3 linked regions of the Homo sapiens genome follow. The protein of the gene in region 3 purifies or fractionates together with the protein of the main gene of each other region. This does not show direct contact. Each region holds a gene or a part of one and is shown on either strand. Other genes may lie near its edges. The genes, in order: CSNK1G3, ARRB1 and ALPK2.

Region 1 (3,657 bases), on a different chromosome or scaffold from region 3:
TGTCTTTGATTCCCAGTAGCAAGAGGAGATGGGACAAGCGTGTGTGATGTGTGTGTGTTTGCAGGGGGTGGTGATACATACACATTGGGGTGTATCAGAATCTCTGTTTCTGGGGAGGGCACCATGTATGCAGTTTGAATTTGTATCCATTCCTGCTATGATTACACTATCTTTTTTTGTTTGTTTGTTTTGTTTTGTTTTGTTTTTTTGAGAAGGAGTCTTGCTCTGTCGCCCAGGCTGGAGTGCAGTGGCGCAGTCCCGGCTCACTGCAATCTCCGCCTCCTGGGTTCAAGTGATTCTCCTACCTCAGCCTCCCGAGTAGCTGGGACTACAGTGATTACACTAGCTTACATTCCCACCTGCAGATGTTCTGCTGCCTCACTCATATTCATATCTGAGAAATACTTGTCTCATCCAAATCACTAATATTATAATAGATAAGTAAACTGAGGCCCACTTGAGAGGTTGAATGACAAGCTAGCCACACAGCTGATGAATATTAGGTTAGACTAAGAATGTAGTTTTCTTGGTTTTTAGTTCAGTGTTTTCTATTCTGTCCTGCAATGATTTATATTCAAAATAATAGGGTAAATAATAATAATGTTATATTTAAAAAACGTTTTATTAAAAAGAATGAGAAGTTTTCATTAGATTTGTTTTCTCTTTCAATATACTGAAAAAAAATCACTTGGAAGTAAAACTGAGACATTTGTGGTGGAAGAAGTTCATTTTTTCATGCTAATAGATAAATGCAGTGTTAAGTGTCAAACTAAATAATAGGGAGACTTGTCTAAAAGAAAATGATAGTTATTTACGAGTGGGCATTACAATGGGAATATATGTGAGTATATTCAGGGAGGTAAAGGAAGACAAGAGTTTTTAAAGGAAAAATGAGGAGGGTCACATAAGTTGTTTTGAGAGAGTTACCCTTGGCTACAAGGATCATTAACAAGAATGGCCTCAGTCTGAAGTTGGACAGGCAGTTCCTGGGCAGATGTCCTCACAGAGTAATTTTTTGTAAAGTTGTGGTGGCTTTTGTTCCAGGTTGTGGTTTTTGCAGTCTTTTGTGGTAGTTCTTCTTATCAGGCATATATATATATATGTGTGAGAACCCTCCCTTCATCTCCTTCCCTAGCTCTGTTTGTCAGGGTTTTAATACAAGTGACTCTGTTTTGATTCTGACAACTTCCATATAAAGTAAATTGATCACTTACATTTCAGTTTATTGGGAGTCTGTTAGTTCTGAAAATAAAATACAGATGACTTCATATTTGGAGTTTGTATTATTCAGACTTCATATTTGGAGTTTGTATTATTCTATATAGCTTCATAATGAATTATTACTATCTCTTACTGGCTTAAGATGAAAGACTTTATTATCTCACAATTTCTATGGGTCAGGAATACGGGCATGGCTTTGCTGGGTCTTCTGTTTAGAGTCTTACCATGTGGAAATTAAGGTGTAAGCCTGGACTGCAATCTTACATGAGCCTCAGTGCTCTCTTCCAAGTTCACTGATTCTTGTCAGAATTCAATTCCTCATGGCAATAGAACTGTGTGGCCCTTACTTCCTCAAGGATTCCTATCTGGCATGTGGCTCCCTCCACTGCATGGTGGTTTGCTACTTTAAGGCCAGCAGGAGAGTTTCTCTGCTGTTTCCAATATCTCTGACTTCTAGACTATCTTTTTAAAGTCTCACCTGAATAGGTCAGGTCCACCAGGATTCTCTTCCTTCTGATCAACTTACAGTCAACTGATAGGAGCCTTAATTACATTTGCCGTATAAGTTAGCCTGGTCACAATAGTGAGATCCCAGGAATCATGCTCACGTTCAAAGGGAGGGGTTTATACAAGGTGTATAAGCCAGAGGATGGGAATCTTGACAGTGGTGATCTTAGCAGTATGCCTATCACATGGTTATTAAAGCCAGTAGTGACTCTCTTTTCAGTAGAACTGGAATCTCTCCTATGTGCTAAGCCTTTCTCCAGGCCATGGAAATATAAAGCTAAAAAGCCCAGCTTTTGTCCAGTAATAAGGTGGTAGAGAGAAACAATGAAGTACTGTTTATAATGTAATTCAGTCATGCAGCTGCAATAGAGGTGTATCCAGGCTACAATGTGAACATCAAAGAGAAGGTATTGGGAGGTTGGGAGGTTTGGTCAGGAAAAGTATGTATCTGGAAAAAGTGATAGTACTGCTTTAGTTCTTGAAACTATAAAATTTTAAATATCAGTTTTTAAGAGGAAAACCTTAGTATTTAAGATGATGAAATTATTAAATGAGTATTTCTTTTCCCCCAGATGGTATACCTCAAGTTTACTATTTCGGCCCTTGTGGTAAATACAATGCTATGGTGCTGGAACTGCTGGGACCTAGTTTGGAAGACTTGTTTGACTTGTGTGACAGAACATTTTCTCTTAAAACAGTTCTCATGATAGCTATACAACTGGTAAGTAAAATAAGGTATTTGAAGTTGTTTGAACAATTACATGGTTGTTGGTCACAAATTCATATTAAAAGTTTAAAGTTCTGTGATATTGTCTTACAGAGCGTTTGACGTAATACAAATGTTTCTACTTTTCATGTTGTCTTTCTGGGATCCATGTAACTTAAAATAACTGAGTCAAGTATATTTTATTTGTATAAAAACTAATAATTGCTTTAAGATCAAAATGCTCAGTTTGCAAATTAAGTTGTTGCTAGCCATTTCTTCATATAAAAGATGATTACTTCAAAAGAGAACCCTCAGAAACATAGATTTTTTTTTTTTTTTTTGAGACGGAGTCTTGCTTTGTTGTCCAGGGCGGAGAGCGGTGGCGAGATCTTGGCTCACTGCAACCTCTGCCTCCCGGGTTCAAGCAATTCTCCTGCCTCAGCCTCCCGAGTAGCTGGGACAACAGGTGCATGCCACTACGCCCGACCAATTTTTTGTATTTTTTGTAGAGACAGGGTTTCACCATGTTAGTCAGGATGGTCTCGATCTCCTGACCTTGTGATCCGCCCGCCTTGGCCTTCCAAAGTTCTGGGATTACAGGCGTGAGCCACCGTGCCGGGCCAGAAACATGGATTCTTAATTTTGGTAATAGACTTTATGACCTGGAAAAACAAGAGGCAGACTAATGAGAGAGTCTTGATAAACTACTTAGACTTCAGGGAATCCGTTGGATAACAATTAGAGAGTGATTTTAAGGCAGTTTCGAAATAAATGCCAATAGAAGTGTGCTGCAGAAGTCTTAAAATTGTTTTTATTCATTGACTCATTAATTCTACAAATTTATCCTATGGATGTTTTCATAGGTACTTAAAGCTTTATATGAAAGGATGTTTATAATAAAAAAAGGAGAAGCAACCCAAATATGCAGAAATAACAGGGTTAGTTGAATAAATTAATATCCAGAGGAAAATATGCAGCTGTTAAAAAGTGCATATTAAAGATTGTTTTATAGGCTAGGTGTGGTGGCTTGTGCCTGTAATCCCAGCACTTTGGGGAGTCTGAGGCTAGAGGATCACTTGAGCCCAGGAGTTCAAGATCAATCTGGGCAACATAGTGTGACTCTGTCTCTACAAAAATAAAAATAAAAAAAAAAATAAGCCAGGTGTGGTGGTGTGCTTGTGTAGTCCCAACTGCTGAGGAGGTTGAGGCAAGAGGATTGCTTG
Region 2 (2,677 bases), on a different chromosome or scaffold from region 3:
TCTCAGACCCCACAGAGGCCAAGGGGCCTTGGCTCTGACCCAGGTTAAAGAGAGCCACCAGCCCCCAGGCTCAGGGAGCTGAAACCACCCATCCGCAGAAATCTAAGGGCAAGGAGAAATAGAAATTGTCTGTTCCTTCCCTTCAAAGTGTAAGGCCTCTTCCAGGAGCAACTGGAGCCACCACAGCTTCTCAGTGACATTGGGAGGGCTTCGGGCCCAGGAAAAACCCAAGCCTTTTGTCCTGAGAGCCGAGCCACAGCGGATGCAGTGGCGTCAGCATCCCAGAGCGGCAGCTTCTCTCCTGCCTGTCACTGGGGACTGGTTGCTCTCCACCCATCCAGGAGGAAGGGGTTAGGTCCCAGTCTTACACTCTTATAGGGTCTCATGGACATAGGCCTATGCCTGTTCTGATATCTATAATTTTTTAAACTCAAAAGGACCAAAACACTCCTGAACCCTCATCTATACGGCCTGCACTGGGCTTGGTGTTTCCTCCTGGCCCAGGCAGCTCCATCTCTTCTGCCATTCCTCCTGGACGAAAGTGGCAGGACCCCACCTCTACCACTTCCCCACAGGGTCACTGCACAGCGGCTTCAAAGACACGCCCTGTTGAAGGGGAAACATCCTCCCCCCATCACACTCCAACTCGTCACCCCAAAAGGGAAGTCAAAGCACAGGTCCGTGGGGCCTATGGTTTGTAGACACTGACACAGTGGTTTTCAAACCAGGTGCTGCGGAACCCCTGATATTCCACAGAGCTTTGTCAGGGGATGCTAAAGTGGGAAGATGGGAGTGGAGGCAAAGGATAGGTTTCCAGCCCTCCTCCCATTTCCGCCGCCACCAGAATAACTCTGCTTTTATCTGTCTTGCCTACTGAGATTTCATTTTCAAGCTTTCTTTGAAGAAGAACTTCAAACCACCATCTCGAGGTTTGATCTTAGACCAGCCAGCACAGGTTCTATTCTTGCTGTTCATGTTGGAATGGCTCCAGCGTTCCAGTACAAAGTGTCTTTGTGTTGGAACTTGGGTCACAGACCCAGGCACAAGCATTTATACACACACACACACACACACACACACACACACACACACACGTACATAGTTGATGGTTTTTCTAGCCAACCCACCCTGAAGCTCTGGCCAAGGTTTGATTTGGACAGGGACCTGGTGCTCAGTGGGGATGGGTCGTGACCCTGATATTGGCCCATGAAGCATGGGGAGCTCTGGAGCAAGGAAACAGGCTCAATCCCCCACTGAGGACTTGTGTCTGCACCCCTATCTGGCACCCCACTTTCCTGGCCTAGGCCCAAGGGACACAGCAGGAGAAGCAGTGTGATAGGAGAGAGGCTAGGGTTAAATTCATCTTTACACAGCGCCGGATGGATGGAAATCTTGGCTCACATAAAAGACAGACTCAGGGAGGATTTTATGACAAAAGTCCCTCCTTTGAGGGCAGGATTCCCCCAGGAATCCTGGACACTTTAGTGAGAACTGGACCAGCCCTTGGCACAAAACCCTGCCTGCCCTGTCCCCCACTCCCACCCCCCAGGGAATTCTAGGTGAAAATGTGAAGCTCAGGGCACAGCAAGCGCATGACACGGGTGTATTACATTCGGTCCGAGTGTGTCCTTAGTTTCCCTGTGTGCAAAATGGGGCTAGTCCAGGCTCTTCCCACCTCACTGGGACAATTGCAAGGGTCATAGGAGAGGTGGGTATGATAGGTGGTCATATGAGGTGGTGAGTATGAGAGGTGGGTGCCTCACAAACTCGGGGTATGGTCCTGACCTGCATGGCAGATGAGCAGAGCACTTGGGAACGAGCATAGGAAGTGCCATCTTCCCGGGCATCTCTGCTCAGTGTTAAGGTCTAGCCACAGACACTGTGGGACCTGCCTCTTCCTATGGAATGGGGGCCTGCATGGGTTGTGTCCTGGGGCAGGAGTGAGGGATGGCTGGGAAGAATCTCCAGGTCTGTGGCCCTTGTGTTGAGTGATTATTTTGTGACACTCTCATTCCTGGACCACCTGCCAGGTTTATCTGTTATACCTGTGGCATTCTTATTATGTCAGACAAGTTATTATAGTTCATTCAACTCTAACAAATGAACAAAAGAACAATAAATAGGAGGCCATTAAAGGTCTTTTGTGGCAGAGGATGCTGGCTGTGCTTTCATTTCTGTCTCATAAGCCCATGGCAGGTCAAAGACCAAGAAATGCCTCCCTGCTGCCCTGGACTGGCAGATGGGGCTCATGACTGGGTGAGGTGCTCTCTTCCCTTGTCTGTGGCCCCAGCTCCAGCCTGGTCCTTGTACCAACTTCTGGAGACTGCCAAAAACTTTTCTCCTGTCCCTCTTCTGCCACTTTTCAGCCTTATGGCCTTGGGAAGCTGGCATACCTCTCATCCCTCTCAGATACCACAGGATTTTGTGACCCATGGTTTGCTCCTGGGGTGAAGCCATCCTATCTTCTATCTTTGGCACCACTGACCACATCAGTGGGAGTCCTCACCCCAGCCCCAGCCCTGGTTCTTGTTCACTTCTTATCTCCTGCCCTGCTGGGTCTTCCTGAAGTCACTTCAGTTTTCAAAGACTTATGTGCCACCTGGTCTAACAGAACATATGGGAGGAGTAAGGATATCAGTGAGGAAGAGTCGATGTTCTAATAGATAATGTACTGTAT
Region 3 (3,757 bases):
TGCATGTATATGTGTGTATGTGTGTGTGTGTGTGTGTGTGTGTATCTATATATGCACATATATAAACCTTCTGCTCTTTACATTTATTTTGCTAGGAGATGAATGTTGGGAGTTGAGGGAATTGGTTTTTCAAATTATTTCAGAGGAACAAAATTAAGTTTCATAGTGAATTTCAACTTTTCCATTTAATAACTCCCAGGCAACACTTCTTTCACAACCATATCACATTTATCTATTGCTTTGGGACATTCCTTCACTTTTGACTTTATTCTCTCTGTGGTGTGCGACAGCATTTGTTTATTCTTTATCATCACACTTTCCTCCTCTCTTCATTCCCAACTTGAAGTTATCTCCTCTTTCTTATCTGGAAAAGACCTTACATTGTGAAGACCTCAGCTTTCCATAAAGCCGACCATTTGCAAAGAGTTGGTAATTTCTGTGTTCTGTGGCATTTCACAGATGTGTTCCCCAGGAGATAGTCATTATTTTACAGTGCCTCAGCTTTAATATCTTTTTTCTCACATGAAGATAAAACTGAAAAACAGAACATATCACCCCTACATTTCTTAATATTTTATCGTTTTAGATGAGTTTTCATCTTGTGAAAAGTTGCATTCCATCAAGGGATAATGATGTACATTCTGTGCTGTGTAAAAACAATTTGCTTTTGAGGATTGCAGTGCCCTACACAGAGTGAATATTTACAGCTATGTCCCTTTCAAAGTCACCCCTGGAGCTGCTAATTTGAGCTGTCTCCACGAGTCTCAAAAGAGGTTTCTGTCTAAGCTGTCAATTTCCAGGTGTCATACATTAAAATATTTTTGGGGAGAGGCTAAGTAGTTACAGAATGATGCTAAAGGATTCTCTATGTTTTTGGACTTGGATAAACTTCAATAAAAGAATTGCCCATATTACAAAATCTACTTTCCCAACAAGAACCATTCCAGGCAATCTGAAGGAATAGGACCTGTGGTATTTCTTCTGTGGATTTCTTCTGATCTTTGTCTGTTCTCTTCTATCGTAGTCAAAATAGGAAGGGGTGTGTGTGTGTGTGTGTGTGTGTGTGTGTGTGAGAGAGAGAGAGAGAGAGACAGACAGACAGACAAGGGGTAAGGGGGGGTAAGCAGGGTGAGGAGGGTGGATCCTGCCTTCCTTCTGTGGCTTCTGCCTTTCTCAGAGAACTTCAGAGGATGGCTATAATGCCTGTTCTAAATGAACAACATATGACACATATTTTCACCTCCCCAACACCCCCTCCACGGGTTTCCTATGTGTACTTCAAATGCCTGATAACCTTGGTATGAGAACTGGTTGTGTTACTCCGGCCTTAATCCCTTTATCAGGCAGCAAGTTTTTCCTTTCCTAAGGAGCGAGCAACTAAGCCCAGGGTCCAGCATGGGCTTTGTAAAGAGCTGCTCGGTCTCCTGAGCAGCAGCCAGTGACAGCTCGTCTGGGTTTCATCAGCTCCCTGGGGCTGCATTTCACCAGGCCCCCTTGCCAGGGCCTCCCCAGCGTGTCGTGTCAACAAGTGTCGCACCTACTGCAGAAACAGCCCTCAAGTTTCATCACAGGGATGCTAAAATATATTCTCCAGCTTCAGCAATGACCTAGTTCACTGAAGGGCGGGGAAAAAATGCTCTTCTTCCAGAACTTCCCCGGGCATGGAATTTCCCCTCTTAGGAAGAGATGAACTTTCTGGAAGCAGACCCATCTATGCTTTGACCTGATCATGGAAGACCCTGAGCCCTATAAACTCCTTTGAATCCCTGTCCCGGGAACAGGGACACCCAATCAATGCCTCACACACAGCCTGGGGAATCCACAGCTGAGCCAGCCCTCCTACAACATTTCTTGGACAAAGAGTACTGAAAAGTAAGTATGTAGACTTTGGTTTTTACATAAGGAATGGCTGTGCTTTCAATATATAGTTGTTTACATTTTCTGCAACAAAGAACAAAGCAGATGGTTTCCTGATGAAATAGAATGAGATGAAACCAATAGGGATTATATGGGATATTTGGGCATATAAGGTTTTAAAGTGGGCAAACTCTCATGGTCTTGTAATTTAAGTCCATTTTGACCCTTTTTGAAAATTATTGCTATTTTTAAATTTGCTTATTTTGGCTTGACAATAATGAATGAAAACAGTTTCTTTCACATCATGTCTATCTTAACAGTTAGAAAAAATATACAGAATGACTCAAACGAGTGATATGTAAAGTTTTGCAAAGCAACATAAAAAGTCAACTATCCAGGTAACTCAGGCCCCAGAGACTTTTGTCTGAAATATTTGAGTATTTTAGTCAAGAGTTATTCCTTTTACTGTGAATTAACTGAATGATTGAAAATCTCTCCTATCTGGGTAGACACAGGAGTATATTGTCTGACAACAGGTAATGCAATTTGCTGAAAAGCTATCAGGCTTTTCAAAATGGCTGATGTAAACATTTATCGAGTTGTTAAATAGATTTAAAAAAAAATTTAAGGCAAAAAGTCAGCCAAAAAAAAATCCATCAATTAAATGCCACCACTGTCACATTACAATTTAATGAACACATCTAAACTTTAAAAGCCTTGATTAAGGGTGTCAGTTACAGACATTTGGCAATCATTTAAAAATAGATAAAAGCAAGAACGGCATTTAGAGCTGCTTCTGCTCTAATTATTTTCTTTCCACAACCTTTTCCTTAAGTAAAGGTAGCCTTTATTTCTAAAGATTAATTAACCAGGAATGGTCATTCCAGAGATATGTGATATGTTTTATAACTCTATATCAACTAAGGACAAATTGAAGGGGTTTTTTGCTGTGTGGCTTCTGAATTGAAACCAAGGATGTTGTGGGTTACCTTCCGAATCAACAACTTCACAAATCCTGTATTAAAAAGCATGGATGGCCAATAACCATGTTCAGATCTTGGAAATCAGGACTTAAAACAAACTAAATGAACTTTAGCTCCCAAATATACATTGTCCTTTTTTTGTTTTGTTTTGTTTGTTTGTTTTTTGTTTTTAGATAGAGTTTTGCTCTTGTTGCCCAGGCTGGAGTACAATGTCTCAGTCTCAGCTCACTGCAACCTCCGCCCCCTGGGTTCAAGCGATTCTCCTGCCTCAGCCTCCCAAAGTAGGTGGCATTACGGGTGCCTGCCACCATGCCCAGCTAATTTTTTTTGTATTTTTAGTTGAGATGGGGTTTCACCATGTTGGCCAGGCTGGTCTTGAACTCCTGACCTCAGGTGATCCACCCGCCTCGGCCTCCCAAAGTCTTGGGATTACAGGCGTGAGCCACCGCGCCTGGCCTACATTGTCTTTTTGATGTTTTTACCAAACATTTAATCATAATTTTGGGAAGCTTTTAGGTAGGGCAGAGTTCCTATTGTCATTACCTACAAAGTTTTTTTCTCCTCCAGTTTCATGAGTTTTTAACAGCCTCCTGAACACTTGTGTGTAGGTATCAGCCCCTGTGATGCGATGCAGTTGAGTTAGTATCTTACTCTGGATGGAGGTGGGAGAAGCAGGGGAGGTCCTGAGAAAGGCTTTGGAGTCAGATTTGGAATCGACTCCTAATTTTAGCATAACTTTTCAACCTGTTTGAACCCCAGTTTACTCATCTGTAAAATCTTAACAGTATTCACTTTAACAGGATTGATGGGGGATTAGATGAATAAATATACCTAAAGTATGTGTCGAATCATAGTTTCTCAATGAAAGTTAGTTTTTCACCTTAATTAAAAGCTTCTGTCTTTTTTTTTTTTGCTAA

Evidence for each region.
Region 1: the proteins of ALPK2 (region 3) and CSNK1G3 purify together in Homo sapiens (affinity purification with mass spectrometry; one large-scale study listed by BioGRID and IntAct). This does not show direct contact.
Region 2: the proteins of ALPK2 (region 3) and ARRB1 purify together in Homo sapiens (affinity purification with mass spectrometry; one large-scale study listed by BioGRID and IntAct). This does not show direct contact.

Annotation. Positions count from the first base shown.
Region 1 is NC_000005.10:123,571,093-123,574,749, forward strand, and holds part of CSNK1G3 (casein kinase I isoform gamma-3), read left to right. Parts: intron 1-2,300; coding exon 2,301-2,449; intron 2,450-3,657. UniProt on the Homo sapiens protein: Serine/threonine-protein kinase. Casein kinases are operationally defined by their preferential utilization of acidic proteins such as caseins as substrates. It can phosphorylate a large number of proteins. Participates in Wnt signaling.
Region 2 is NC_000011.10:75,259,599-75,262,275, reverse strand, and holds the end of ARRB1 (beta-arrestin-1), read left to right. Parts: 3' UTR 1-2,154; downstream 2,155-2,677. UniProt on the Homo sapiens protein: Functions in regulating agonist-mediated G-protein coupled receptor (GPCR) signaling by mediating both receptor desensitization and resensitization processes.
Region 3 is NC_000018.10:58,626,879-58,630,635, reverse strand, and holds the start of ALPK2 (alpha-protein kinase 2), read left to right. Parts: upstream 1-1,544; 5' UTR 1,545-1,872; intron 1,873-3,757.